Regions from separate parts of the Homo sapiens genome. Here regions 1, 3 and 4 are each reported to be linked to region 2. Evidence: microRNA targets listed by miRTarBase, many of them from high-throughput screens and not tested one by one. Region 2 holds a microRNA gene; each other region holds the end of a gene's coding sequence.

The links. The annotated mature microRNA hsa-miR-7-5p reads UGGAAGACUAGUGAUUUUGUUGUU and lies in region 2 at 4,223-4,246, shown strand. An mRNA with a match to its seed (bases 2 to 7 or 8) in the 3' UTR can be bound and repressed. Matches are read on the target gene's strand: a 7mer-m8 pairs with bases 2 to 8, a 7mer-A1 pairs with bases 2 to 7 and ends in A, and an 8mer does both.
Region 1: miRTarBase lists THAP12 as a target of hsa-miR-7-5p. Seed matches in the 3' UTR shown: 7mer-A1 at 1,383-1,389.
Region 3: miRTarBase lists C10orf105 as a target of hsa-miR-7-5p. Seed matches in the 3' UTR shown: 7mer-m8 at 4,188-4,194 and 7mer-m8 at 3,435-3,441.
Region 4: the mRNA of WNT8B is a reported target of hsa-miR-7-5p. The part of its 3' UTR that is shown has no 7-base or 8-base seed match.

What each region holds. Positions count from the first base shown.
Region 1 is chr11:76,344,531-76,352,062 of GRCh38, reverse strand. THAP12 (THAP domain containing 12) reads left to right here. Exons shown (of 5, transcript NM_004705.4): 5 at 1-2,107. The coding sequence ends at 1,199. Among named protein-coding and RNA genes, the nearest start is that of THAP12, 33 kb to the left of the region's middle.
Region 2 is chr15:88,607,634-88,615,165 of GRCh38, forward strand. It overlaps MIR7-2 (microRNA 7-2), which reads left to right and starts at 4,192; the gene lies at 4,192-4,301. MIR1179 (microRNA 1179) reads left to right here and starts at 474; the gene lies at 474-564. It overlaps MIR3529 (microRNA 3529), which reads right to left and starts at 4,291; the gene lies at 4,214-4,291. It also overlaps a transcript of AEN not described here. RefSeq lists an enhancer at 5,401-6,085.
Region 3 is chr10:71,709,617-71,716,616 of GRCh38, forward strand. C10orf105 (chromosome 10 open reading frame 105) reads right to left here. Exons shown (of 2, transcript NM_001164375.3): 2 at 2,085-6,726. The coding sequence starts at 6,721. The coding sequence ends at 6,320. It overlaps CDH23 (cadherin related 23), which reads left to right. Exons shown (of 70, transcript NM_022124.6): 28 at 3,049-3,197. Among named protein-coding and RNA genes, the nearest start is that of C10orf105, 6.7 kb to the right of the region's middle.
Region 4 is chr10:100,481,814-100,489,315 of GRCh38, forward strand. WNT8B (Wnt family member 8B) reads left to right here. Exons shown (of 6, transcript NM_003393.4): 5 at 99-241; 6 at 458-1,931. The coding sequence ends at 1,003. SEC31B (SEC31 homolog B, COPII component) reads right to left here. Exons shown (of 26, transcript NM_015490.4): 23 at 7,439-7,502; 24 at 7,045-7,161; 25 at 6,214-6,285; 26 at 4,834-5,982. The coding sequence ends at 5,803. Among named protein-coding and RNA genes, the nearest start is that of WNT8B, 23 kb to the left of the region's middle. RefSeq lists enhancers at 471-1,126, 3,147-3,923, 3,272-4,764, 3,924-4,699.

The sequences.
Region 1 (7,532 bases), not on the chromosome of region 2:
CCTTAAATATGTGGTTGGCAAAATCAGTACCTGTTATGGGAGTATCTGTTGCATTAGGAACAATTGAGGAAGTTTGTTCTTTTTTCCATCGATCACCACAACTGCTTTTAGAACTTGACAACGTAATTTCTGTTCTTTTTCAGAACAGTAAAGAAAGGGGTAAAGAACTGAAGGAAATCTGCCATTCTCAGTGGACAGGCAGGCATGATGCTTTTGAAATTTTAGTGGAACTCCTGCAAGCACTTGTTTTATGTTTAGATGGTATAAATAGTGACACAAATATTAGATGGAATAACTATATAGCTGGCCGAGCATTTGTACTCTGCAGTGCAGTGTCAGATTTTGATTTCATTGTTACTATTGTTGTTCTTAAAAATGTCCTATCTTTTACAAGAGCCTTTGGGAAAAACCTCCAGGGGCAAACCTCTGATGTCTTCTTTGCGGCCGGTAGCTTGACTGCAGTACTGCATTCACTCAACGAAGTGATGGAAAATATTGAAGTTTATCATGAATTTTGGTTTGAGGAAGCCACAAATTTGGCAACCAAACTTGATATTCAAATGAAACTCCCTGGGAAATTCCGCAGAGCTCACCAGGGTAACTTGGAATCTCAGCTAACCTCTGAGAGTTACTATAAAGAAACCCTAAGTGTCCCAACAGTGGAGCACATTATTCAGGAACTTAAAGATATATTCTCAGAACAGCACCTCAAAGCTCTTAAATGCTTATCTCTGGTACCCTCAGTCATGGGACAACTCAAATTCAATACGTCGGAGGAACACCATGCTGACATGTATAGAAGTGACTTACCCAATCCTGACACGCTGTCAGCTGAGCTTCATTGTTGGAGAATCAAATGGAAACACAGGGGGAAAGATATAGAGCTTCCGTCCACCATCTATGAAGCCCTCCACCTGCCTGACATCAAGTTTTTTCCTAATGTGTATGCATTGCTGAAGGTCCTGTGTATTCTTCCTGTGATGAAGGTTGAGAATGAGCGGTATGAAAATGGACGAAAGCGTCTTAAAGCATATTTGAGGAACACTTTGACAGACCAAAGGTCAAGTAACTTGGCTTTGCTTAACATAAATTTTGATATAAAACACGACCTGGATTTAATGGTGGACACATATATTAAACTCTATACAAGTAAGTCAGAGCTTCCTACAGATAATTCCGAAACTGTGGAAAATACCTAAGAGACTTTTAAAAATAGGCTTTCTTATATTTGATATTTGGAAGAAAAAGCCGTAAGGTGTATGTAGACCACTTAATCACTAAATATCTTTGCCTATAGGACTCCATTGAATACATTAGCCATTGATAATCTACCTGTTTAAATGGCCCCTGTTTGAACTCTCAAGCTTTGAAGACCTACCTGTTCTTCCAGAAGAGAACGTTGAAAGTGCCATGTTTCCTTTTGCGTGATCTCTGTTGATGGCACTCTGGAATTGTTTCAGTTAAGTCATTTTAGACATAGCATTTATTATCACTGTGGATCTCTACTTGTTGGGTGTTATGAATTCTTTGAAGAAATATATTTTGAAGAGGTGTGGGAGGAAGGAATACATTTTATAAAATGTTGTAGTGAAGCCCACAATTGACCTTTGACTAATAGGAGTTTTAAGTATGTTAAAAATCTATACTGGACAGTTACAAGAAATTACCGGAGAAAAGCTTGTGAGCTCACCAAACAAGGATTTCAGTGTAGATTTTGTCTTTCTTGAACTTAAAGAAACAAATGACAAAGTTTGAATGGAAAAGCCTGCTGTTGTTCCACATCTCGTTGCTGTTTACATTCCTTTGTGGAGCCTACATCTTCCTAAGCTTTTTAGCAGGTATATGTTGAACACTTCTGTTTCATGGTTGAGACAGAATCAGAGGCCATGGATACTGACAACTGATTTGTCTGTTTTTTTTCTCTGTCTTTTTCCATGACTCTTATATACTGCCTCATCTTGATTTATAAGCAAAACCTGGAAAACCTACAAAATAAGTGTTGTGGTTTATCTAGAAAAATATGGAAAATATTGCTGTTATTTTTGGTGAAGAAAATCAATTTTGTATAGTTTATTTCAATCTAAATAAAATGTGAATTTTGTTTAAAGCTTAGGCACATTATTTTTTGTGGGGTCAAAACATTCTTGTGTAAATTCTCTTAAACATTTGATAAACAGCTTCACAATTCAAGGTGAGTCTTTTGTATGTGGTTTACTACTTGGGTTACAGAAAAAAAACAATTAAGAAAGTGTTAAATGTAAGATTCACCCAACTAGGTTTTTTTTTTTTTTTAAATGTACTGTGTGGGCCCTGATGTAAATTGTCAGAGTTTGTCTTATTGTTGCTGGCTAAAATGAATGCAGAGGTGTTAATGAATTATTTTATGTTGGGAGTAAGTGTTACTTGAGCTTCAGAAACCAGAGTGGTGTGTATTTGCTGAACTGCTGAGAATGATAGCCCACAGTCCATTTCTCTGTCCTAGGAAAGCCCACAGATGTGTCAAATCAGGACACATTATGCATGCGGCTTATCAAAAAGATAACAAGAGTTTATCTTATAGCCAGGGCTCTAAGAGATGTCTCTGTCCTTGGCAGAAAGAACTGATCAAGTTCATGATGGCAGGATGACAATGAAGGAAACACAAAGCTGGTGTTTCAATACATTCATCCTGTTCTTAGGGAGCTTAAGAGTGGTGTGGGGCGGAAAAAAAGAGTGGTGTGACCTTGACAGATTACTTAACCTGGGTCAGTTTCCTCAGCTGTACAACCTACCTTAAGGTTGTGCTATGAGGGTTAATTAATTTATCATCGGTGACCTATTGCTGCTTAACATTCCCCCCAAATTTAATGGTTTAAAGAAATACTTTACCATTTCTCACAGTTCTGTGGGTTGGTTGAGTGGTTCTTCTCCTAGTCTCATCTGGGCTGTCTGCATTCAGCTGGGAGGGTGACTGGGGACTGAATATGATGACTGGGCCTCTCCATGTGGTCTTTTATCTTGCGCTATGTAATGGTGGTCTCAAGAGTACCAGGAAAGCAAAGGCAGTGGCTTCAAAGCCTGGACTCAGTAATTCAGAGCATCACTTTCACCACATTCTTTTAGTCAAAGCAAGTCACTTGGCCAGTCTAGATTCGAAGGAGGAGGAAATAGACTCCTTTTGTTGGGAGGAGCTACAAAATAATGGCCCCCTTTTCAGTCTGCCACAATAATGTATCCAAAAACATTCATGCAACAAGCATTAGTTAAAGATGCCCATCATTTGTTTTTATAATGTATGTATATTCTCTAATTTGGGAGTCTACTGAAAGCTTAAAAACCTAATTTATTAAAAGATGTTTTCAACAAACTGATCTTTGATGGTAGGTTGAATCAGTGCACTGATGAAACAGGTTGTCTTTTGCAAGATGAGATAATTTAGAAAGTGGTAGGTGTCATGACCATTCCACAAATATAAGTTGAATGCTTACTGTGTGCCAGGCTCCTTGGCTAAGTGCTGGCAATACCCAGTGCATTTTCTGACTCACCAAGCTTACAGACTAGAGTTGGCCCACAGTTGGCCCATAAGTACATGCAATTGTACGTACTTATAACTACACACACACAAACTTCATAGACTTCAGTAAATCCGATTTATTGAAATTAAAGGAAAGGAAAATAACATACAGAGTATCCACAAAAGCCTCGTACAGTTTTTTAAAAATAAGATCTGTATCATATCTAAATAGTTTGCAAATGTACTAGGAAAGACATTCAAGATTTAGCATATCTAATCAGAGGAATTTTTGCTTTTGACATATCTCTTTTTTTTGGAAAAAAAAAGTTACACAGTTGAAGCCTGATGTAGGATGTGTGACCTGTGAGGTAAGTGGGAACAAACACTTTATTAATAATTCTATGTAATTTTCAGTTAATTCTTAGAATAATTCCTGCGAAGTAAGTAGTAGTTGGTTGGGTTGAAAGAGCCTTCCTTCTGAGACCAGTTCCTCTGCAGTAACTTAGTTGGATCAGGTTTATTTCTGTTTGATAGGGGCAGCCACTTTTAAGTGCTATTTTAAGTAAGTCATAAAACAGGAAAATTGTACTTGCAGTGTTACTTTAGAGCTTACAAAGCACTTTGATCTCATTCAAGTTCTCAGAAAAATTCAGACAGGTATTAACCCCCTTTTATCAGTTGAGAAATCATGTTCACAGAGATGAATTAATTGCCTCAAATTAAATGGCAAGTAAGTGCCAGAGGCAGGTACTTCAGTCCAGTGCTTCGATATTAAAATTGATTGTGAAAGCCACTTCATTCTTAAGGTTTGTAAAAGGAATATTTGCTTTAGGAATAGGTTCCTTTTATGTTCTTGCTTTATCCATTGCCAGCTTTCAGCACAGCATCTCTAAAATGCACTCATTATAGTCGACATGGGTTTCTTGCAAAGAAAAAAAAAATGGAGCCTGAAACTTCTGAGACTTTACAAACTGGGTGTAGAAATGCTGCCACCTTTGTTTGGCTGCCAAGACATTACCACAGAGGACTAGATCCAGGTCCATTTATTTCATGAGAGTGGATGCAGCTGTCTTGCCATAATCAAATGCTTCTCTGTAGCCAGCTTTTTGTGGCCAGAAAAAGTAAAGTAATTTTTAGTACAGATTAGCATAAAAATATCCACAAGATCAGTTTCAGGAAACAATTCCTAGCTTAGAAGTAACAATAAGTGTGATCTATAGGTTGGCCAAATGGCAGTTAATTTCCAGACCTTTTTAAAATGCCCCTTATTTCTCACCATGAATACTATGTAAATAGAATACACTACCTGCCACTGTATTTAGTTTCATAAATTATTTGGACAGGGTGAACAACAGACTTCAAAACTATGTAGAGGTAGTAAATCTGCTCCTTTTTAATGAGTTTGAATTTACAGTAGTAGTTTAAACATCTGGAAGTTTAAAGTCTTAATTCATTCCAAATGTTCAACAAGGATATACTTTAAAGAGGATATTGTAATTGAGGGATCAAGAAAACTGTTGACTCAATCTGAGGCCTTTCTACTTTTCTCTATATACATTAATCACATACAACTTGAGAGGTTGACAGTTCAAAAAGAGAAGAGATGGACCCAAATATCCAAGTTGGCATTCTTATATGAGTAAGAGTATAGTTATAACAAAGGTGAAGTTTAAATGTTGGTACACATCTAAGGATGCAGCCAGATAGTGCTGCTGTGTTCTATGCTTCTTATGGATATGAGGAGGTTTTTTTGAATTGTTATGAAAGCTGGACTTAGAGGAGTCAAAACTTTTGACTTCTAAATTGTAATTTTGATTAATGCATCTCGTAACCCAAGATTCTGATGTGAAGCCAGCACCTAGCATGAGACCAAGCATTCCTTTAGTGCACACTTACTGAGTTTCTACTGGATGCTTGTTAGGTGTCAGTTTTCTCACACCAAAACAGGGTTGTGGCAGCAGCAGTCATCATTGTCCACAGCGGCAGCTGCTGTTAACGGTGCTCAATATATGCCAGCTATGTGCAAAACACTTTACCTATAGTGTCTCATTTAAACTTCTCTACTTTATGAAGAAGGTACTATTATCCCCATTTTACAGGTGAAAACCTAAGAATCAGAAGGTCGCACAGCTAGTGAAAGGTAAATCCAGAATCCCAACATGATATAATGATTTGCAGATCTAATTTGTTGTTAATTGTATTTGCTTCTCATTCTAATTTTGAATATCATATTGAAAACCTATGTTGCTCAGTCTGTTTGGCATCAGGCACAAGGCTGTCATGGATACAAATGTGAATGACATACAGCCCATGCCATGGATACACAGGAGAATAAGATTGACCCCCGGCCCCCAGTAAGCTGAGTCACATGGGAGAGCCAAACAAGCAAGCTGGAGTCTGCCAGGATCAGGTCTAAAGGTAGGGTAACCCTATAATTGATGGTCTTAACCAAAGCACTTTCGAGCATGTAAGGGGGCACTATTAATAGTTATGCCAGACAACAGATAAAACAGACTGTCTACAGCGCGCCACAACTTTTGTTCACCATAGTTAGAGGTAAACTCGGTGTGAGGGGAGTACAGTGGAGAGTACCCTGACTGACCAGAGACAATGCCCTGGATCAACAGAGTGCAGCATGTGTAGTGTGTTGTCACCGTTACAGGCCTTAGTCTAGATGCCAGTTCCCCTAGGGGCTTCCTCAGCCCTGAAATCTGGGTTGGGGGGTCCTTACATGTGCTTCCAGGTTTGCCCGGCTCTGCCACTGGATGAAAGCTGTGTGAGAACCTGTGTGGCTGTGAGGTGTCTCTCAGTTTGCAGCTCAGAGTAGTAGACAGCATTGAATATAGGAGGTCAAAGAGGTAGGCAACAGCCTTTGCAGAAAGACAGCATTGAATATAGGAGGTCAAAGAGGTAGGTAACAGCCTTTGCAGAAACCTATAAAAACAGCAATATTTGTTTCTCCACATATTACCTCATTAAGTTAATGAGTGATGATGGTATATAAAACTAAGCCAAATTCACCACCATCATTGCCAATATAGGTCCAGTTGAAACATGTTTGAAGCCACTGAGAAACTGGCATTTGCTAACAGTAGTTGGACCTTTGAAAATGGTGTGTACTGTGCAACTTTATGACCCCAAGTATTAGGTTAGTCTCACACTTCCTTCTCAGTGAAAATGTAGCTTTTATCTTAGTATTACAAGTATACCCATATAATGTATGATTCATCCTCCGTCCCCCCCACCACACACAAAAAAAAACAACTGTGATATTCAGCATGCTATTTCAGGTTGTTAAGGTACCTGATATGTAAGTAATACATCTTCCTCACACCAGTATTACACACATTGAACTGTAAATTCTTCATAGTGGTAGAGTTTTAGAGCTGGAAGGAGTTGTGGAAACTGTAGACAACTCATTTGACAGAGTACCGGAGAGGACGGCTTGCTCAGAATCGCACTGCTTGGTGATGGCAGAGGCTGGGGGTGAGCAGAAGTGTCCTCCCTCACTCAGTGCTGTGCTCTGTCACACCACACAGACGCAACTCAAGATGGAAAACCTGAAAGAATCATTTCTTGGCAGGTGAGCAGTGTCTGCCCTTTAAATTGTTATTAGTGTAAATGGTAATCCCATAAGTATGTCATCTTTATAGGAGAGAGATTTATTAAACAGGCCAGGGTCTGGGGTTTTTGGCACCATTTCTGTTTTGTGTTACCGTAAAATTTGGTTTTAAAAATATTTGGTATTGCTTACATCTTTTTTGGCAAATTCCTATTCTTGGTATGATTGTTTTTCTTTAGAAGAGTACATGTGATTAGATTGTAGATTTGCAAAGCCTTTATTTCCTAAAAGAGATGTTGAAAGCTTTCTTTATAATTGGATTTGTGGAATTTGGACTTCCTTTTATTAATAGCAGCTGCTGTATATTGAGCACTTACTATGTACCAAGCATCGTTTTAGGTACTTTGTATCAGTCATTTAGGTCACAATAATCAGATGTTACTATCGCCATTTTGGGGATAGACAAGAGAGCAAATG
Region 2 (7,532 bases):
TCAGGCAGGAACTGTGATATCTTTATCTGTGATGCCCTGAACCATAAACACACAGGTCTTTTCTTTTCTCCTCTTGTTCTCTTCTTTTCTCTCCATTTCCTTCATTTATTATTAATATAAGAATTTTTATTCATTATAATTTCAGCATAAGTTTAAAAGGTCAAAAATTCGCTCGGTGAACTGACTTGATAGTTTTGCGGGTATTTACATTAAAATGCTTTTAAAATGCTTTTCTCTCCCATGTTACTATAGAAACTTCCCTTTAGACCAGACCAGACAGCTGGTCTGCTTTTTGTACTTTTCTTCCCAAAGAAGTGCTTTCCTTTATGAATTGTCCGGGGCAGCTATCATTGATCACATCAGTAATGTCCCATAGCAACAGTTGTGTGGTTTTTTTTAATTATTATTCACTTTCTGCTTATTTTCTTTATGGACAAAGGGTCTACTTTCAAGAAGATAACTGAGCTCTTATTGGCTGGAAAGGAAGAAGCATTCTTTCATTGGTTGGTGTGTATTGCCTTGTCAACCAATAAGAGGATGCCATTTATCCTTTTCTGACTAGCTGAGTGAGCAGGGTACACAGAAGGATTGAATCTGCCTTAGTTCCATCCAGTAGCAAAGGACAGAACTCAGAGTCCTGGACTCAGGATCTGGAATTGACTTTGGCTAATCCAGATTGCACTGACTTGCAAGGATGACATTTTTTACCTACCTATTCGCAGCTTACTTCAACATACCTGCCTTATACATTGTCCTATGGCTTTTTTCCCCCTTCATTTTAGGAGATACTGTGATCATCTTTCCAAGTCAGTGCAGGTTATTGTTACCAGCACACTGAGGGTCCAGAGAATTTTGTGATTTCCCCTAAAAATAGATAATTGGTCCTCATTATTAGAGATTTGGTGAAAACTTTTGGAGATGAAGATGGAAAGCTAGAAGTCGGAAGAACTGCATTGCTTGTGATGCAGAATGGATATCTCAGCTTGTGGATTCACTCTACTCAGCTCTCAGCTTTGGTGTTTTGTGTTTGGTGTTTGGTGTCCTCTTCACTTTGATTTTTATTTGTCTGTTTTTCCACTTTCATTCTTCAGAGCTGCGCTTTTGGCCTGAATTTTCAGTGACAAATAGAAAAGCTGAATGGATGGAGACAATGACTCTTTAATTCAATGTAAGAGCTGACTCATCGCTTCCCAGGAAGACTTGTTGCAGGTAGGTGATGGTTATCCTGGAACTGGAGATTATCCCAGTCCTTTGTTGCACTGGCAATGGGCAGGTCTGTTTATTTTTCTCTTTTTTCCTGCACCAAATAGTCCTACTCAGGGATGCTGGCATTGGTCCCCACTTCCCTAAAAGAGGGGAAGTCAAAGTTCTTTCCCTTTCAGGACAGAAACTCTCTGATAACAGCCCGGAAGAAGTCTTAATGTGAGTACAGACCACTTCAGTCAGTCTTTTTTTGGTTCTTGGCAGGAGGGGATACTGGGAATGGATAGATGCCTGATCATCACGGTGCTATCAAGAGCCATATTCTTTATTGGCCCCATCTGTGCCAGAGTTCAGCGGTACCATGAGCCCTAGTGCTAGACTATTAGCCCTTCAATATTAGGAGCTATGTCTTGTACCCCTTTGATTCCCTCAAACTCAGTTGTGCTTAAAGTAGGGCTGAACAAATGTTTGAACTAAATCCTACTGGCTAGTATTAAGACAAATAGCTTATCTTCTTCTTTATGAGAATGGTAGCTCTAGACCTGGACCCTCCCCCTCCAAATCAAAAGCTTCATATTCCCTAGCCCTCTTCACAAAAGATAAATTAAGGCTCAGTTAATTGTTACCATGGTAACATGGAGTGGCCACATTGAGGATCCCCATCATCCATTACTGTCATGAGGTAAAAGAGAGGAGGGGTTTGGGATCATTGTCATGGAGGAAACCATGGAAACAAGCGTTGCTAAGGGAACAGCTCTAAATTCAGAGGAAAGAAATTAGAAGTGGGGAGTGGAAGTTGGTGGGCTCAAGGGCAGGTCATTTTTTCAAAATATATTTCTTTGAGACTACAGCAGCCTCTTTTATTGCTTGCATCTTCTCCCAATTCAGATAGAGCCCAGAATTAAAGAATTTTGAAAACTAGGGCCACAATCAGTTCAAATTCATCTTCATTGGATCTGTAAGGAAAAAGCCAATGAAAATGGATTTACCCTGTTCACACCTCACAATCCTACTCTGTCTCTGAACTCTGCTTCTTTGCCAACCAGTTTCATTTATCACGGGCCAGGCTGTGCGCGAGGCACTTGGAAGAATAATGAGTGAGAGTCCCTGCTCTCATAGTGAGCTTCTAGCAGGGCAGTGGTTTGGGTGGTGGCTTTAGGGCCAGGGTTGCTCATGTAAGCTAGATCAGTCAGTCCTGCAAGCTGACATCCAGAGAGATGCTGTGGTTCTCTCCAAACTCTCTTTGTGGTGCATTTTAGCTTGTCTATTACTTCTCAAAGTTTATTTGCCAGGTCCCTAAGAAAGGCCTGTTTTTCCTAGAAATACCTAGGGTGCTAAGCTCTCCTATTAACCAAGGGGTTACCTTAGTTAGCATTGTTCTCTAATGGTACCCTCAGGTCCTTGTCTCTAAAACAATTCAAGGTTGAAGGACTAACCCTCCTCTCAACAGTGGCAAAGAGGCACGGGGCTATTTTTTTTTTTTTTTTGTAAAAGAAATTAAAGACCACACATCCATCTCTGTTTCTTGATAGATTAAAGGATGGGGAAAGGAGGTCTCAGTTTTCTACAGCTGGGAATTTCAGAGCCAGCACCTCACTGCGGGGTAGACTGAAGAGGGTCATAAAGAGCCTCTGGGGGAGGAACACCTCTCCCTTACATCTTCCACAAAAGAACTTCTTGGTTTTTCTCAGACCCATGGCAGAGATGTGCCCTGTCTCAGGCTGACAGCTGGAAGGGGCTGGGACTCAGAGCTAGGTATTGCCAGTCTTCTCCATGACTCCCCCCACTCCTCCTGCTCCTGAGCGTCTCCATCACCAGGCAAGCCCCCACCCCCATTCTGGATAGAGAGAATAAACCCAAGGATGGAAGGGTGGGCTAAAGAGGAAGTGCTCACAATTAAAAAGAGAAAGAATTAAAAGCAGCACCAATAGGGAAGGGTAATTATCCTTCAGTTGCTGCAGAAATACAATTAGGGCCATGCTCTCTGAGCCGCCAGGATATTGTGGCTTTTGCTAATTAAGGAGCGGATGTGTCCTGCCAGCGCAATTAGAGGCTGGCCCAGGCAGCAGGGGCTTTGCCTCTCCTCCACCAGTGCCACACTGCAAGGGAAATTAACCAGGGAGCCCAGCGCTGTGCCTGCAGGGAGGGGATGACTGGGCCAGGATTCCACCAGCCTCCTGTCCACAACCATTTCCCCTTTTCCTCTTCCTGCTCTGCTTACCCCAGCACCACCACTCTGACTTCATTCTGAAGCTTCCAGGGCTCAGTAACCACAGGAAGAATTTTCACCATGGGCCATGCCCATAGGCTTCCAGAAGGGGGAGGCACCAGTAGAGAGGGGTCACCATTTCCAAGCTCTAGTTTCTCTTCTGCATGGTGGTTCAATGCTTTATGATTAGTAAAGGAAAGAGAGAAATGAGCCACTTGCCTGCTTCTCTTTAAAAATAATTCCCCTGTTTGTAAAGGAAATATGCTCAAATTGGGTGCAGTGGCTCACGTCTATAATCCCAGCACTTTGAGAGGCTGAGGCAGGAGGATCACTTGAGCCCAGGAGTTCAAGACCAGCCTGGGCAATATACTGAGACCTTGTCTTTACTAAAAAAAAAAAAAAAAAAAAAAAAATTAGCTGTAGTCTCAGCTACTAGGGAGGCTGAGGTGGAAGAATCACTTGAACACTCGAGTCTGGAAGGTTGAAGCTGGAGTGAGCTGTGATTGCACCACTGCACTACAGCCTGGGTGACAGAGCAAGACCCTGTCTCACCAAAACAAAACAAAACAACTGTGTCCATTATAGAAAGTAGAACACTCCAGAAAAAAGGGAAAAGTAAGAAAAAATAATTTCTCCAGGGAATTCTGAGGTGAGGAGAGGTGTTCAAAGATGAACTTAGTAATAGGAGCGGAGACAACGCCTCGCCTGAAGGAGCATCCAGACCGCTGACCTGGTGGCGAGGGGAGGGGGGTGGTCCTCGAACGCCTTGCAGAACTGGCCTGGATACAGAGTGGACCGGCTGGCCCCATCTGGAAGACTAGTGATTTTGTTGTTGTCTTACTGCGCTCAACAACAAATCCCAGTCTACCTAATGGTGCCAGCCATCGCAGCGGGGTGCAGGAAATGGGGGCAGCCCCCCTTTTTGGCTATCCTTCCACGTGTTCTTTTTTGTATCTTTTGTGTTTCCTAGAAAACATCTCAGGTCACCACCCTAAACACCCATCGGCAGACTCTTCCAGAAACATGGACAAACTATGGTGTGAGCAGGGAAGTGGGGCAGGGTCTCTGTTTTCAGGGAGCAGTGGACTGCTTCCATACCACTACCTGAAGGGCAGGGGGAGAAAAACCCTCCTTAATTACTAATTCCCCCAACAATCACTTTGGGGCACCTATAATGGAGGCACCTTGTGACTCCACATCCTGGGGCTCAGGGCCTCATTGTCTGTGGCCCGACAGCCACAGTGTATGCGGGCACCGAGAGGTATGCACTGGAGACCGAGGTTCCCGGATGTTCAGTGTACCTGGCAGCAGGGGGGACACACCTGACCTCGGAGCTTGTCTGGTGCCTGCTCCACAGCTGAGGGAGTGGACTTGTGTGTATGGAATTTCTTGGTCCCAGTACCTGCCTCTGTGCTGCTACATCCAGAGGTGTGGCCAAGGGAAAAAAGCCCAGTGCTTGGGGACCATCCCCCACTGTGGCAGGAATACAATTAGAATTAGTGATCAGAAAAAGCATTTCCCAGCCTTTTATTTATTTATTTATTTATTTATTTATTTATTTATTTATTTATTTTTGAGACAGAGTCTCACTCTGTCCCAGGCTGGAGTGCAGTGGTACAGTCCTGACTCACTGCAACCTCCACCTCCTGGGTTCAAGTGATTCTTGTGCCTCAGCCTCCCGACTAGCTGGGATTACAGGTGAATGCCACCAACTCAGCTAATTTTTTGTATTTTTGGTAGAGAGAGGGGTTTGCTATGTTGGTCAGGCTGGTCTCGAACTCGTGACGTCAGGGGATCTGCCCACCTCGGTCTCCCAAAGTGCTGGGAGTATAGGCATCAGCCACCTTGCCTGGCCTCCCAGCCTTTCTGCCTGGGATCCCTCTGCCTGGGGGGTACCTTGCCCTAAGGTGAGCACCAAGTTACAGTGATGACACTTTCAGTGGAGATTAATTTTCAAGCAACAAATCCAAATGCCCTCCCTATTCCTAAGTATATTCCCACCCTCCTCCATCCATACAGCAGAGGAGACTAAAGCATATTACAAACTAAAGTTGGGGGTTGGGGATCGTACTCATTTAGGGAATGCTAAAAATGCAACCATTAGCTGAGCTCATTCTACCTCTTCCGGTTGCTAGCTGTGTGACCTCTGGCAAGGCACTTGACCTCTCTGAACCAAGTCAGCCCTTCACTTCTACCCAGAGACTTTGGCTGCCTCTGCTTCTGCTGCTCCCTATCCTACAAACTGGCTCTCTTCTTCTGCACTTCCAGTCTTAAATTTCCCTTTACTCCTAACCCTGCCTGAAGCCAGTGGGAAGCCAGTCCTATTAGAAATCTCATTTACACTTCAGAAGTCTGCAAATTGGTGTCACTCAGCAGGTATCTGTCCTTCACAGCGGGAGAGAAGCCCAGATTGGGCAGGAAGGGCAGAGCTGGAGAACAGGAGAGGAGGGGAGTTGAGTCTCTCCTGGGCAGCCCTCAGCCTCTGGGGCTGGTTTGGAGATGGAACGGGGAGAGATTGTGTCTCAGTGAAACAAGCATCTCGGGGGGGGATGTGGGGTGCATTCCTGATTTGAGGGATGGATATGACAGCCTTTGTTAAGTGGTGGGGGGAGTCCTGGCTCTGAAGTCAAACATGTGCCAGTTTCAATCTTGGCTCCACTGCTTACGAGCTGTGTGACTTTGAGTCAGTCACTTAACATCTCTGAGTCTCAGATTCCTCAACTGTGAAACAGAATTGATCACATCTACCTTGCTAGGTTATTACGATAAGTAGGCAAGTGAAGTGTCATAATATAAAATAGCATGGGTATATACCCAATATTGGTCTCTTCTGCCTTTTCTTTCATAGTTTTCATGGTTGTCCTCTTCACCAGCCTTGTGCACCCACAAATCTGCCATCCTGAAATAGGAAAAAATGGAAACCACCATCTTTCTATTAGTCTCCCCTATCATGTAGGAATTTAATCCTATTTAAATATGTATCCTTCCCCTTCCAGATCAGTATCTTGCCCATTTCAGGGGACTCAATATATATTGAAAGAATGAATATAGACCAAGTCCCTCCCCACTTTAAAAATGCTGAAATCAGGGCCTGCAGAGGTTGTGACTTATCTCTTGGTCACTCAGCAAAATAGACAATTTACTACTGTTTTTATTTATTTATTTATTTATTGAAATGGGGTCTGGCTTTGTCACCCAGTCTAGAGTGCAGTGGTGTGATCTCGGCTCAATGCAACCCCAACCTCCTGGGCTCAAGCAATTCTCCTCCCTCAGCCTCCCGATCAGATGAGACTACAGACACCCACCACCACACCCTGGCTAATTACAGTATTTTTTGTAGAGACGGAGTCTCCCTGTGTTGCTCAGGCTGGTCTTAAACTCCTGGGCTCAGGTGATCCTACCACCTTGGCTTCCCCAAATGCTGAAATTACAGCGTAAGTCACAGCGCCTGGCCCTAACTTACTACTTTTTAAGGTAACTTTATTGGAGTCTCAACACAAAAACCTCGGCGATACAAGGGTCACGGCATCTGGCCCGTCGCCTTAACTGCATCAACCGGGTTTACGAAACAGCCTGATTTCCAGCCCCACCCATCGCAACTGCAGCTGTCAGGTTTCCCGGCTCACGTTTCCCTGGATGAGCAGAGAGGCAGCGTCCTCTGCTGGAAGCTTTAGGTAACTCCACTTTAGCGGCAATTGTCAGTCTCAGCGACAAACTACTAACACCTGGGGAGATTTAAAAACCTTCCTGTTCAGGCCCCACCCCAGACCAGTTAAATCAGAATCTTGGGGTGGGGTGTGACCCAAGCGTCTGTGGTGCTTTTTTGTTGTTGTTGTTGTTGTTGTTTTGTTTTGTTTTGTGAGATGGAGTCTCGCTCTGTCGCCCAGGCTGGAGTGCAGTGGCGCGATCTCGGGTTCACGCCATTCTACCGCCTCAGCCTCCCGAACAGCTGGGACTACAGGCGCCCGCCACCACGCCCGGCCAAATTTTTTTGTATTTTTAGTAGAGAAAGGGTTTCACTGTGCTAGCCAGATGGTCTCGATCTGCTGACCTCGTGATCCGCCCACCTCGGCCTCCCAAAGTGCTGGGATTACAGGCGTGAGCCACCGCGCCCGGCCTC
Region 3 (7,000 bases), not on the chromosome of region 2:
TAAAATAAAATAAACTGACTTCAGCAATATGGGCTCACAAAACCAGTCCACTGGGAGATGTAACTCCCAGTATGACTGGATTCAGGGCTCAGGTGACACCTCAGGCTTCAGTCTCTGCACTGGCTGGCGCTGCCTCCTGTGTGTTGATGTATTAGTCTGTTTTCACGCTGCTGATAAAGACATATCCGAGACTGGGTAATTTATACAGGAAAAAGGGTTTAATGGGACTTACAGTTCCACGTGGCTGGGGAGGCCACGTGGAACTCACAATCATGGCAGAAGGCAAGGAGGAGCAAGTCCTGTCTTACATGGATGGTAGCACGCAAAGAGAGAATGAGGAAGACGCAAAAGTAGAAACCCCTGATAAAACCATCAGATCTCATGAGACTTATTTACTACCACGAGAACAGTGTAGGAGAAAATGCCCCCATGATTCAATGATCTCCCGCTGGCTCCCTCCCACAACATGTGGAAATTATGGGAATACAATTCAAGATGAGATCTGGGTGGGGACGCAAAGCCAAACCATATCAGTTGGCTTTATTCTTCAACTCACATGGTGGCAGGTCGTTGCCCCAGCCTCACCTGTACACATTCTCAGGTTCAAGTGCAGCGGCATGGAAGACAGCACTTGTCTCTTTCCCCTCCCTGGCAGAAGCCCTCAGATCAGCTCTAGATAGATCCATTCTGCCCCAGTGCCCATTCCTGAGCCCCTCACTGTAGCCAGGGAAGTGAGATGTGCTGGTTACTTAAGCCTAAGTCACATGCCCATCCTGGGCCCTCCTGCTCCTGGGCTTTTCCTTCTTCAGGCCTCAGGGCAGCCTCACCCCCCACCCCAACCTCCAGGAAGACAGTGCCTAGTGGCCAGCAGGGCCTGCTGGTGAGGTGGATGGCTACAGGCTGAATCCAGCCTAGGATGTGCAGGGAGCTGGGGGCAGTCCCACCTACCCAGCATCCCAGGCCTCAAAGCCTGGAAGGGAGGGTCCACAGGGGGACATTCAGGACATGGCCTTCCCAGGGGAGCACAGGGCAGTGCTGATGGACAGAAACAAGGGGTGCCCACTGCAGCCTTGGAGGCCACATAAGGTTTCAGTACATGAAGAAGCAGGGAGGGCACTTCAGGCAGAGGCACCAGCCCATGCAAGGGCCTGGAGGTGGGAAAGTGCCTTGTGTGCACAAGCATGCGTGCATGCACCGCAGCTGGCCCATGGAGTGGCCCACACTGGGGAAGGGGAGGCTGTGATCAGGTAGGGCCATGTGTGGAGGCCTAAACATTGGCCAAGAAGTTTGGTCTTTGGTCTCTGGGCAGCAGGGAGCCCTTGAGGGCCCCAGAGGGGAAGAGTGGTATGATGAGACCTGTGCCGCCGGGTGCTCCTGGTCCTCCCAGGAAGTTTGCAGTGAGCTGAGTAAGAAGGGAATGAATTCTCTGGGCCTCACTCTTTCCAACCATCAATCCCTTCCCAGCCCGCCCATGCCCAGATGCCTCTGCCCTCTGCCCTGCTCTCCTCCCCTCCTGGAATGGCTGCCCACCCTCTGGAGACTTGTTATCACCCCTGAGTCCAGCCCTCACTTTGGGCATTGCCTGGCAGGAGGAGAGGGCTTCTGCCAGCCTTCTAGGGAGCCTCCCACACACACACCAATCCCAGCCAGAGCAATAAGCCAACCCCCAAGGGTGGTGGGAGGCTGGTCTGGAGAGGAGCTTTGGAGGGTGAGAAGACCTACCTCCAGTGAGCGACAGCACTGCCACGTATGGTCAGCTGGCCTGGGGAAGAAGGATGGCGTCACCCTAGGTCTCCAGGCTACTCCAGCTGCCTGCACCACCCCCTGGGGTGACCACTCTTGCCTGGACATGCAGCGCTGGTTACAAGCTCCTTCCTCCAGGGAGGACAACCCAAGAGCTGCCTGGGGCTGAGTCAGTGCCCCATCCTCACCACCTCCCAGCCCTGGGAGGGTCCTGTGGGAACTGGAGGGACAGAGTCTCCGGGGACCTTAAGCTTAGATCCCAAGCAAAGCCCGTGTTCCTGAATGCAGAGGGGACGTTTGTTTGACCTATCCAATATTTTATAAAGAATGACCATTAGTTGTGAAAGTTTAAAGATCAGGAGATTTTATTTAAAAGCTCAGATGTTCAATTTCTCATGAGAAATCAGAAGATCTGGTGTCTCTGGGCCCACATTCTGCCTGTCCGCTGTGGACTGGAGTGGAGGACAGCTGCCCTTCCAGCGGGGCCCATCCAGGTGTTTGACCCAGGTGCTATACCCGCCAGTCCCTGACAGCAGTTGGCTTTTTGCTCTTAGTACCTGTATCTGCATCCTAAATTTGCCACGACAAACTACCACAAACTTAAAACAGCAGAAGTGTATTCTCTCCTGGTTCTCAAGGCCAGAAGTTAGAAATTAAGGTGTCGGCAGGGTCACGCTTCCTCCAAAGGCTCTAGAGAGAATCAGTCCTTGACCGTCCCAGTTTCTGGAGTCGCTAGGCATTCGGTGGCTTGTGGCAGCATAACTCCAGCCTCTGCCTCCATCTGCATGTGGCCTCCTCCTCTCTGTCTCAAATGTCCCTCTGCCTTTCTCTTGTAAGGACACTTGCCATTGGGTTTATGGGCCACCCAGCTCACCCAGGATGATCACTTCTCAAGATCCTTAACGTAATTACATTTTCAAAGGCCCTTTTCCCAAATAAATTAATCTTCACAGGTTCCCAGGGGTTTAACATGGGTCTGTTTTTTTTGGGAGCCATCATTCAATCCACTTGAGTGCCTCAGTTACCTCCTCTGTAAAATGGGGATGACAGTAAAGTGTCTGCTTCATGGGGTTGCTGTGAGGACTGAATGGGTTAGAAGAATGGCTGGCACATGGTGTTATCTAAGTATTTGATACTGTTAGTGTTATTCCTAAGCTAAAAAGGAAGTCACCCCTTGCAAAGGCTAGGGCAGATGGGGCGGAACAGGGCACCTCTCTGGCCGGTGCCCGGGAGTGTGCAAAGTCACAGGAAGTGTGCCCCTCTCTCAGGCAGCTGCTAACACCTGTCTTCCTTCAACTCCCACAGACAACGGCCCTGTAGGGAAGCGACACACGGGCACAGCCACCGTGTTCGTCACTGTCCTGGATGTGAATGACAACCGGCCCATCTTTCTGCAGAGCAGCTATGAGGCCAGCGTCCCTGAGGACATCCCTGAAGGCCACAGCATCTTGCAGGCAGGTGGCCCGTGGCCTCTGGGGCAGGTGGTGGGCTGGGGGAGGCGGAGCCACACACGGCCCTGAGGGCACATGCTCAGTGGCACCAGAGGCGGAAGCAGGTGGGGGCCCAGGGTGGGTCCGCTGCTCTGGAAGGTGCTGTGGGGAAAGGGGGACCCAGGCCCTCTCCCATCCCAGGGAGTGTGGGCCCCCAGGTTGCAGAGCTGAGGATAGGGCTCTGGCTCCCCACAAACAGGAGGAAGACTTGGCCTCCCCCTGCATATCTCCCGCCCCACCCAGAAGGGCCTTTCAGAGTAGCGGGGAGAAAGAGACGTCACAATTTCCCGGAAAGGAGTTGAGAAGAGAGCCAGGGCCCAGCAAGGCCCAGAACAGAGCTGCTTTCACAGAGCCCTTGGCCGAGGCTCCCCTCTTGGGAAGTAAACAGGCACAAGAAGAAAGGGCTCCTTTGCCCAGGGAGCAGGCGCAACAGCTCCAAGGCTCAGAGGGAGAGAAGGGAGGACCCTGAAAACAATTTGGGTGTGCACCCACACCTCTGCCCAGAGGCCTCAGTTGCTGGGTGGGGAGGGAGGCCCGGAGTGAATGAGTCTCTTTACCAACTATGGGGTTTCCGACTCGGAGGCTGAGCCAAACAGGGAATCTGGGCCTGCCCACTGGGGCAGGCTCCCGGGCTTGGGAGGGACAGAAGCGTGGGAGGCTGGCAATGCTCCCCTCCCTGCATCGGGACCAGGAGGCGGGCAGGAAAGGGCTGGGGAGCAGGGAGCTGACTCCCAGAAACACAGAGAGCCCAGAAAGCCCTGAGGATTTGCGAGAGTGTGGTGGCTAGCTCCAGAAGGAGGAAGTAGAGGGTTCTCTCGATCAGGGCCTCAGCTTGTGAGGACTTGGAGCATACCCCCCTGGCCTGGTGCCTGAAACCCAATTGAGAGCCCTCCCCCTCCTGGACTTTTCCTTCTTCAGGCCTCAGGGCAGCCTCAACCCCCACCCCAACCTCCAGGAAGACAGTGCCTAGTGGCCAGCAGGGCCTGCTGGTGAGGTGGATGGCTACAGGCTGAATCCAGCCTAGGATTTGCAGGGAGGCCCCAGGGGAAGCAAACCAGGAAGAGGTTACTGAGCAGGAAGGGAGGAAGGAACAAAACCCTTAGGGAGGAGGCCTGCCCCACTTTCTAAACCCAAAGACTTGGTTTCTATTTACACAATACTACTCTTACTGAAATCCTAGAGCCAGCGAGTTAATATAGGGCAGCCCTGAGTTCTCCCATTTCTCAGGGAGAAATGCAGCGTCTCAGGATGACTTCTCCAAGGTCCTCTTGGTAAGTTTCTTGTGAAGCCGGACTCACTTTTTGAGATCAGATTGACTTGGAAGGAAGGGACAGTGGGCTTCTCCAATAGAGCCTGCTTGGAGAGAAATCTTTCTAGAGTCATCTGAGGGAAGATGAGGCTCTGTGTTATGCCAGCTTCCACCAAGACTCCTGCCTCAGAGGGTGGGGACACACCCAGGCTGGGCCACGCTTCACTCTGTACACAGAAGCCTCATACTTCTGTGCACAGAACTGGGGAGTCAAAGTGAGGGGCTGGACAATGTCTGGCTCTCTGCAAGCTCCCAAGCTGGTAGGAAAGAGAAGACATAGACAAAAAGGACCCATGCTGCCAAGAGAATGTTCCTTTTCCTCCCCAAGAGAGGTAGGAGACAGTAGGGGCGGCTCCAGGCAGGAGGGCTTCACAGAGTGGGTGTGTGTGAAGCATAAGCCACAGTTAGTGGGTGACAGGTCTTTCAGTTTTCCTGGAGTTTTGGATCAAGATGAGGCTAGAAAGATTAATTGGAGCCAGCTCCCAGAGGGCACTGCACACTGCGCTGAGGAGCTTTGGCTATATCCATTTGGCATTAGGGAGCCAGTGAAGGTTTTGGAGCTGGGGAGTGGCAAGCCAGAGCTCACTCCTTGGGGAGACGTGGCTGGCTGCACTGTGGGTCACAGCAGGATGGGGGTGGGGCAGCTTTGTGGTGGGATCCTGGCCAGCTGACTGGGACAGGAGCTGGGCAGCCCAGGTCCTCCCTCTGCCCACCCTTCAAATTTGGGACCTGACCAAAGTGTTTAACCCTCGCGTTGTGAGGAGAGGTCAAGGGTTTGGGATTCTGAGAAGCCCATCCTGGGGTGGGACTGCTTTGACGGGTCATCAGCAAAGCACTCACCAAAACCACAGATAGCATCCCTAGTGTGGGCAGGACTTGGGACCCCACAGCTGTCCTGGAGAGGTCCAGACCATCCCACCCTCGGGGAGGCTGCCGCTTTCCCTGGGTGAGGTGTGGAGCTGCTGTGAGCTGTCCTCCTCCGAGTCCAGGTGGCATCACCTCCAGCTGCTGGAAATGCCCTGCCTCTTGCCACTCTGTCACAGCACCCGCCCTGGCCTCTGAAGGGAGCCTCCTCGATCATCTTCAATCCCTTCCTGATTGATCCCAACGTGGGTGCCCTGAAGAGGGGCCACCAAGACGGCTGCCAAGACCATGCTTGGAGAGCCCTGTTTGCTCCTCCTCCCAGCTGGCACCCAGGCATCTGTTCCACCAGGAGGGAGGCAGCTGCTCCCACAGGGCACCAGGCAGATGCTGGCAGCACCCGGGAAACCCAAGGAAGAGAGCCCCGAGGTTTTGCCCCAGCACTGGGCCAGCACAGATGCCAGGACAGTGTCTTGGCCCCGGTGTAGGCTGAGCATTTCACTTGACTAAAGGGAACCTTTGCCATTTGGCAACTTCTCCATGCTGGGCTTTGGCACCTGGAGGGCAAGGCTTCTGTGGCGAGCGAGGGTGCTGCTTCTAGGAGGTGGTTACGAGCCCCAGGTTGTACCCTGTGGAGCCTCAGGCCAAAGGCCCAGATGACCACGAGTGCACATCTCTTGACCAGAAGTCTTTCATCAAGCAGCAGCGAGGGGGTCTGCAGAGAGGAAGGTGCTCTTCTGAGGATCATCTTTGGGAAAGGGCGCTGGCCTGGGCATGCAAGGAGCTTCGGGGGGTGAGTGTGTGTCCCAGACTGCTTGGGCCACTGTCTTCCTGCAGCCTGCAGCACCGGTCTCTGAAGCAGGAGGATCTACAGGTAGACCTAGGGGGATGTGGGGGCATGTTTGTGGACACCCCATTACATCTTGGTAGATTCCATGTAGTCACAGTGGCTGCGGTTGTCCTCGGGGCCCGGCAGGGGCTGTCGAGGGACGGTGGGCCGGCCATGGCGGAAGCTGTGCAGGGAGAGGCGCAAGGAGCCCAGGCGCTTCCAGAGCCGGAGCTGGGGCTCACTGGGGCTCCCAGGGTGGTGGGGCATGCACTCGTGAGCCCTGCGGCGGCTCGGGTCCAGCGCGGCCGGCTTGCAGAGCGTCATGAACAGCAGACAGGTGGCCAGCAGGAGGAAGATGCAGGCCAGGGCGATGAGCATGGGGAGGGGGTCAGTTGCCTCTGCAAGGGTCCCGGGAGTGACGGGAGCTGAGAGAAAGGCGAGGGGGCTGATGGCTGGGGAGCTGGCGAGGCTGGGGCCCTCTGTGCTCATGGCTCCTGCAACAGCAACAAGACAGAAGCTCAAAGGCAGATCAGCTGGACCCAGGGCAGCGGGTATAGGGAAGACTTACCTAGGGAATGTGGATGGGGGCAAGGCACTGTTAAACTGGACAGCATCATGGCCACATCACAGGTTAAGACAGCAAGGTCCAGAGACATCACAAGTCTAAGTGTACACACAGCTGAGCAGTGATGGAGCTGGGCCCAAGCTCAGGCCCTCTTCCTGTTCCACCCTGTGCCCATCTGCCATGCAGACAAGAGGGCGGTGGCC
Region 4 (7,502 bases), not on the chromosome of region 2:
TCCTGGACCCCCCCACCCCCAACCCAATTAGAAACAGCAGCCCAGGAGGCTCTGCGCCCGCTTGCTCAATGACCTGTCCTCCCTCTGCACTTTTCCAGGGGGACAAGGCTGGCTGTGGGGAGGCTGCAGTGACAATGTGGGCTTCGGAGAGGCGATTTCCAAGCAGTTTGTCGATGCCCTGGAAACAGGACAGGATGCACGGGCAGCCATGAACCTGCACAACAACGAGGCTGGCCGCAAGGTGAGTCCCGCAGCCCTTGGAAATAGGCAGCTGCTGGCTATATCCACTACCAGCTCCAGGTGCGGACAACTCTTCAGTTCATTTAAAAGATTGGCAAAATGAGGTACCAAGTGGGCTGGCCCAGTAGACTAACTAGACTTCTCGCAACTCCCACAGGGGCAGTTAAACTCGCCACGCGCTTAATCCGGGGCCTCTCACTCCTAGCTCTCTCCCCAGGCGGTGAAGGGCACCATGAAACGCACGTGCAAGTGCCACGGCGTGTCTGGCAGCTGCACCACGCAGACCTGTTGGCTGCAGCTGCCCGAGTTCCGCGAGGTGGGCGCGCACCTGAAGGAGAAGTACCACGCAGCACTCAAGGTGGACCTGCTGCAGGGTGCTGGCAACAGCGCGGCCGGCCGCGGCGCCATCGCCGACACCTTTCGCTCCATCTCTACCCGGGAGCTGGTGCACCTGGAGGACTCCCCGGACTACTGCCTGGAGAACAAAACGCTAGGGCTGCTGGGCACCGAAGGCCGAGAGTGCCTAAGGCGCGGGCGGGCCCTGGGTCGCTGGGAACGCCGCAGCTGCCGCCGGCTCTGCGGGGACTGCGGGCTGGCGGTGGAGGAGCGCCGGGCCGAGACCGTGTCCAGCTGCAACTGCAAGTTCCACTGGTGCTGCGCAGTCCGCTGCGAGCAGTGCCGCCGGAGGGTCACCAAGTACTTCTGTAGCCGCGCAGAGCGGCCGCGGGGGGGCGCTGCGCACAAACCCGGGAGAAAACCCTAAGGGTTTCCTCTGCCCCCTCCTTTTCCCACTGGTTCTTGGCTTCCTTTAGAGACCCCGGTAATTGTGGAACCTAGGGAATGGGGAACCCGCTCTCCCAGACCTAGGGATCCTGAGAGGGAGAGACTGCAATTTCTCCAAAGCTTGCCACTTTCCAGCCTGTTTCCCCAATTCCTCTGTGCTCTCCTAGAGCTCTGTCTGAATCCTCGCAGCCACACCTAGGTCTGAGAACTCAGGCTTTGAGTTACTGATCTTCCTTGGATTAGGAGAACAGGTGTTCCTCCTCCCCTCTCCTAGCAGCCCTAATGTCTGACCTAGCCTATCAAGCCTTAGGCGCTGGAAGAACCCTTCTCAGACACGCAGGACCCAGGTAAAGTCAAAGCTTTGCCCTTTTGCCCACTGTCTGCTACCAGGGCTCACCCACTGCTGCACCTCTCTTCTGCACAGCTCCTCCCCTGCTACCTGCTGAGCCAGATTCCCCAGGAATCTTGAATGCTTTCTCTCCTCTTCTCCCTTTCCTTTCCCAGAAAAACTGAGGAAACTGGCCCCGGAAAAGCATGTCTTTGGGGTTGGTTCCTAGAGGCAGAGGTTGAAGATGGAAGAGGGAGCTCTGGAGTGCTAACTTGAACACCAAGGGTGCTACTCATCCCTATGGTATCATATCATGAATGGACTTTACTAGTGGGGCAATGACTTTCCTAGACAATAACCCGAGGGACTCCAGATACATACCCCGAAGGTCTAGGAAATACGTTAAGGGCAGATTACAGTCATTTCCTACCCTTTAAAGGTAACTTCTCCCTTCTCCTGACCTACTTCCTCCTAGCAACCAACTTTACCTCTTCTTCTCCAAAGGATCTTTGTTCCTCTGAGCCAAGACTGAGGTAAATAAAGCCACTTTCCTCTTCAGATCCTGGTCTGCACCTCTAGAGGCAGGTCCTAAGAAGGAGAAACTGAGACCCTTCCTTCTCACTAACCTGGTTCTCAAACAGGCAGGATTCAGAGCACTGGATATCTTCCTTCAATGAGTAAACTTCCTGCAATGAAACTGTTGCTTAGTAGGAAGTTCAGCACCTTGAACCTTAATTTATTGCAGTCATTGTGATATGTGCTCTTTTTCTAGGTACTGCACTTATTCTTGAGGATATTCGGGTGGGCTGTGGTAACAGATACAACCTGTAGGCTCTCTCCTCCCTCCCATCTTGGCAGGATACCATCCTCCCTAAAGCCTCACTTCCCTGGTGGCCCAAGCAGTTATCTGGATTGAGGCTAAGCTGCCAAGGATTAGTAAATCATCTATTTAAATCTTCTAATACATTCACTCAAGAGCCATGAGCTTGCTGCTTGTGGTACTTGAGTCTTCTGGTTTTATTCTCAGAGAGTACAGCAGGGACTTGTTTATGAAACAGAGCAAGACCTTGGGGAGGGAAGAACCAATCCCTGACAGACCCTCTGTAGCCCAAGGGGCTTCCCAGCCAGCTTCCTTGCCCTAGGACAGTCCCAGGTCTGGGGCTGGGCAGCTCTTCTAGAGCAGAACTGGTCAGATGCTAGACGACCTCAACCTTCCTCTCCCAGAGTAGGAAAAGCAGTGTGGCTGGCTCCAGGCAACAAAAGCCAAGACTCTAGGGGTTCACCTGTAAGAGTCAAGGGTTCCCGTATTCCAAACTAAGGCAATGGCCAGGTCAGATCCCAAACCCTTGGCCTCACCCACACACCTTCTGGTCTTACCAACACTTACTGAGGAGAGAGTTTCCCCTTCCTGACCGGGGATACACTTCCTTTCAGGTGTTCTTAGTGCTTCATTTCCAGCTTTCTCAGCAAAAGGCCCTTCACGCCTTCCCTCTGCTTTTATCTGAACCTCCTGAATCTCCCAACTCACCTTTTCTCCTTAATCAAGAAGCAGCATATACTAACCTACCTGTCCCACTTTGCAGAATTACTTTATAATGTACACGAAGAAAGTTTGGCAAGGCAGCTAGAAAATTTAAAAGCACAATGTTGTAAAGTAAAGCTACATTCTCCAGGTCTCTTAGCATAAAAGCAGAACTATTGTGCTTCATATTTGGTAACTCCAGGTCAGCACTCTAAATACGTCATGCCGCCAGAACATTATTTCATAGGTTATTGTTTTATACCCCCAAATGGATACCAGATTCATTCCAGTTCTACCAAGAAAACATGACTGAGATGCCTTGGATCTGTATTGCTTTTCCCTTCCTTTTGCAATATCCACTTGTTCATTTGTTCATTCAACAAACACCAGAGTAGAGATAGTGGTGAACAACCACCATTGCTGCATCACGGAGTTTAAGTTCTCATCTTACACTCAATTGCCAGGGCCGTGGTCCCTTTACAAAGTAGACAACTCCAGAACTGGTGCTTGGGAAGACATCTTTGAGGTCAGCCAGTCAAACCTTTTGTGTTACAGATTTAAACTGATGCTGAGAAAGATGACTGGCTTCTTCCCCCAACTAGTAAGTTACTGTGGGGAGAGTGCAGAGCACAGGCCCCTTCCACCTCTTGTGTGCTCTTCAGGAGCCCATCTGTCTCAGCCAGAAGACAGAAACAGAGGGAGGCCCTGAGAAGTGACAAGGACATTGGTTGGGGTGGGCAAAACACTGTCTCCTTCCTGTCCCTGGCCTGTGAGCCTAAACACAGGCAGAGCTTTTTCTTTTTGAAAAGAATCGCAGCCTCAACTGGCCTTAGCAGCAGGTTAGGGCAAAGACAGAGACGGGGTCGTCTTCGGCGCTGGTGGTGCTGGCGGTGGTGGGAGGGGAGGGCAGGCCAGGGCACTCGCCTATTGTAGGTCTGGATTGGATGCTTCCACTCATTCATTTCCTTTTAATTAACCCGCATTCCTGGAGGAGAAATATTTATGTTGGCTCCCATAGAGGCAATCCTCAGACTGGAAAGAAGGGGGAAGAAAGCCTGTCTTAGCAAAACAATATCTCTAAAGAGCTCAAGAAGAGAAAATAGGAGAACAAAATGCCATTAAAATAGCCTTCTACCCCCACTGGAGTCAATGAAAACTTCATTTCACATGCTAATCCGCCACTCCGCCCCCTTGTCTTCTCACAACACCTTTTCCGAAAGTGTTTGGGAAAAGTCTTCGCAGTCAGTACACAGCTCCCTGCAGCTCAGACTTCTCCTTGTGTTAGTTCAGGGCCCCAAGTGGGGCTCTCGCTCCAGCAGCGGCTTTTTTCTCCCCCACTTTAATTTAAACAAAGACTTCGGAGTTCATCAACCTCCCACTGAAATTCACAGCTGCTGAACAAACTAATCCCCTCTCCCGGCCTTTCTTCCCTTCAATGGGCTCTTGGCTTCAAAGACACTTTGGGAAAGGACTTTGCTAGGGCTCACACTGCTTCATCAATAGAAGTTAGTGCAAGTATTATCTGAAGAGCAAGTGGCTTTACAAACAAATACTGCCTAACAATCCCTCCCTCCCAAACACACACACATCTAGCCCGCAGACATGATGGGATCTACAACAGGATTAGGGCTAGCATCCCCTGGCTTCACACCCAGTCCCTTTGTATAGCTGAGCTCAGCCCTGAAGTGGGGTAGGGAAAACCCTGGAACTGAACACCAGGCACGGATGAAGGGAGACAATCCCCCCACCCTCAACACACCCAGCAGAGTGACCACAAATGCTGCAAGGAGAGAACCTAATTCAGTGGGAATGGACACCTTCCTTTAACTTTCTTGATTTATCTCTCCCTAAGCCTCTCCCCTGCCTTACTAGGGTGCAGGAAGCAAGAATAAAGAGGACTAGAAAGGTAATGGCAAAATAGAACCCAGAGGAGGCAATGACTGGGAGATGACAGAGGAAACCAAATCGAAGCAGCTTTATTGCACCATTAAGTACATCACTGCATCAAAGACAGTGCCACAAATGCAAATCCAATCGGAGAAGGTAGCCCTGAGACATGTGGTGGCTGCGAGGGAGAAGGACCCCCAACCCTTGAGGAGCAGCGCTGGAAGAGAATCATTCCTTAATATGGCTCCAATTCCAGAACTGGGCTTTATCATCACAGAAGGAATGGCCTTGGGCTAAGGCTCCAACATAGGTGGAGTCAAGGGCAGTTCCCCATAGGCTGTGGTTCCCCTGCTCCTGTCTCACAGCCTAAGACAGCTTCCAGCAAAAGGCAGTTCATCCCTTTCACCTTCCATCCAACCTAGCCCACCCTTAATAATGCCGGCAGATGAGAAATTCCATTTTAACAGCGCCAAAGTTTCCTCTCTTGGTTCTGCTCAGCACCCATCCCTCACGTCCATGAGTTGTTCAAAGGGTGAACAGCAGTCAGCTCTACCCCAGACCCTGGGCTACAGAGAAATACGGACCTGGAAATACCAAGTCAGAGGCAGGGAAAAGGTAAGGGCAGGCTCATAAACCACAGAAGGGAGAAACAAAAGACCCACATGATGGGTCACAGCAGAGGTAGGCTTAAAAGTAACAATCCTGTTCACCCTCTCAGAAGCCACTTAAATAGAAGATCCCTGGGGGAGAAGATATCCTGCCCCAGGTCCTTACAGAGTGTAGTATTAGGGAGAGTGAAGAACTGATTCTATGCCCTGCCTCCAGGCCTGAGAGTGTCTTGGACAGATCCTAGAAGGCCAGACATAAAGGAGTAAAAAGCAGGCACTCAGCTGGTTTGGAGCCAAGCCTACAGCATCACATACCTGGCAGCAAGGAAAAGAGTCGGGAAAAAGAAACAGAATCTGTTGCAGAAGTCCCCTCTTCTGCAGGGAGGAGTTATGTAACAGCAGAAGTGGCCTCCTAGCAAGAGAGGCTGCCTGGTTTAGACCAGCAGCTTATGAGCGATGATGAGGACAGCCTTCAGGATAGGCATGAAGCTGGACACCTCGCTGAAGCTGCTACAGCCCGCCACCTGGGCATGCACTGCAAGGCCCTGCTCAAAGCTTCCTGCATCCACACATCGGGCAACCTCATGGAGCCCAGCCACGACATGAGGTGAGAGCTGTGGAGGGAATGACCCTTAGGTTAGTGAGCCCAACCCAGCTCCTACCCTGGCAGCATGGAAGGGATAAGGGAAGACTTAAGTTCTGGGGCCCAGTCCAGGCAAGATGCACGTATTTTGTGGGGAACCCAGGTCAGTGACACCTATGGGAAGAAAAGACACTGGGCTTCCTTTGGCCATGGTGATGGTGGAAGTGTAGGAGGCAGTGGGAGCACAGCTAGCTGTACTTACTGTCCCCTCACAGAGCTTCTCATATAGATACTCCAGACGCTGGGCTGCCTCTTCCAGCTTCCTTTTTGTCTTCTGCAGGGAAAGAAATGGATTCCAACCCCAGCCCCTAAGTCTAACACCACACAGGGCCATAAAGAATCACAGCATATTAGGCCGGGCATGGTGGCTCACGCCTGTAATCCCAGCACCTTGGGAGGCCAAGGCGGGTGGATCATGAGGTCAGGAGATGGAGACCATCCTGGCTGACACGGTGAAACCCCGTCTCCATTAAAAATACAAAAAATTAGCCGGGTATGGAGGTGGGCACCTGTAGTCCCAGCTACTCGGGAGGCTGAGGCGGGAGAATGGCTTGAACCCGGGAGGCAGAGCTTGCAGTGAGCCGAGATCGCGCCACTGCACTCCAGCCTGGGCGACAAAGCGAGACTCCATCTCAAAAAAAAAAAAAAAAAAAAATCACAGCATATTAGAGCTAGAATGGCTTCATTTCACAGAGGAGGGAATGAAGGCCCAAGAAGGGTAAGTGACTTGCTCAAGCCGACACAGCCAGCAGGGGAATGGCAGACTTCCTCACTCCTGGCTCCACCCTCCTTCCAGTACCCCTGCTGCCTTTAGGTCTCAATGCTGCTGGGTCCTACCACCAAGGAGCTGGACTTCAGACCAGACTCAAAAGTCTCTCCCCAGCTCCACATGGACGTCAATTAAGTACAAGATAGAGACAGCATGTCCAGGGGCAGTGAGAAGAGAGTCACACAAGGAACTGGTCCACAGCTGAGGGGTCCTGGAGCCAGCGAGGGGTGCGAGGAGGGCACTGTGAAGAAGGTTCAGACTTACTAAGTCAGTTGCAGACAGGGAGCAGCGTTGGAGAAGCGCCTCAAAGCTGCTCTTCAAGGACTGATGCTCTGGGGGCAGCTCCTTCCTTTCCATCTTCTCAGGTGGCAGGTGCTGAAGCTGCTGATAAAGAAGCAGGGAGAAAGGCCAGAGGGGCAAGCTGTCCTTCTCATGGCTTCCCTAAGGACTAGTCCCCAGTGACTCACAGTCACACTGTTCCCATTACAGCAGAGTTGGGGAGATGAGCAGCCTCCCTTTCTCTGCAGTAAGGACACCTGGTACCTGCCCCCAGTCTCCCTCAGCACATGCCTTGAGGAATGAGGCCCATCTACCATGACCTGCACCCAAGGAGGGCTGGAAGGTTTCCCAAGGGAGGGGAATACATTGTCCTTGTCACCTGCAGGCTGAGTTCTCCTGGAACTCCTGGGGGAGCATGACTCACACTGGAGACAGGGGGCTGT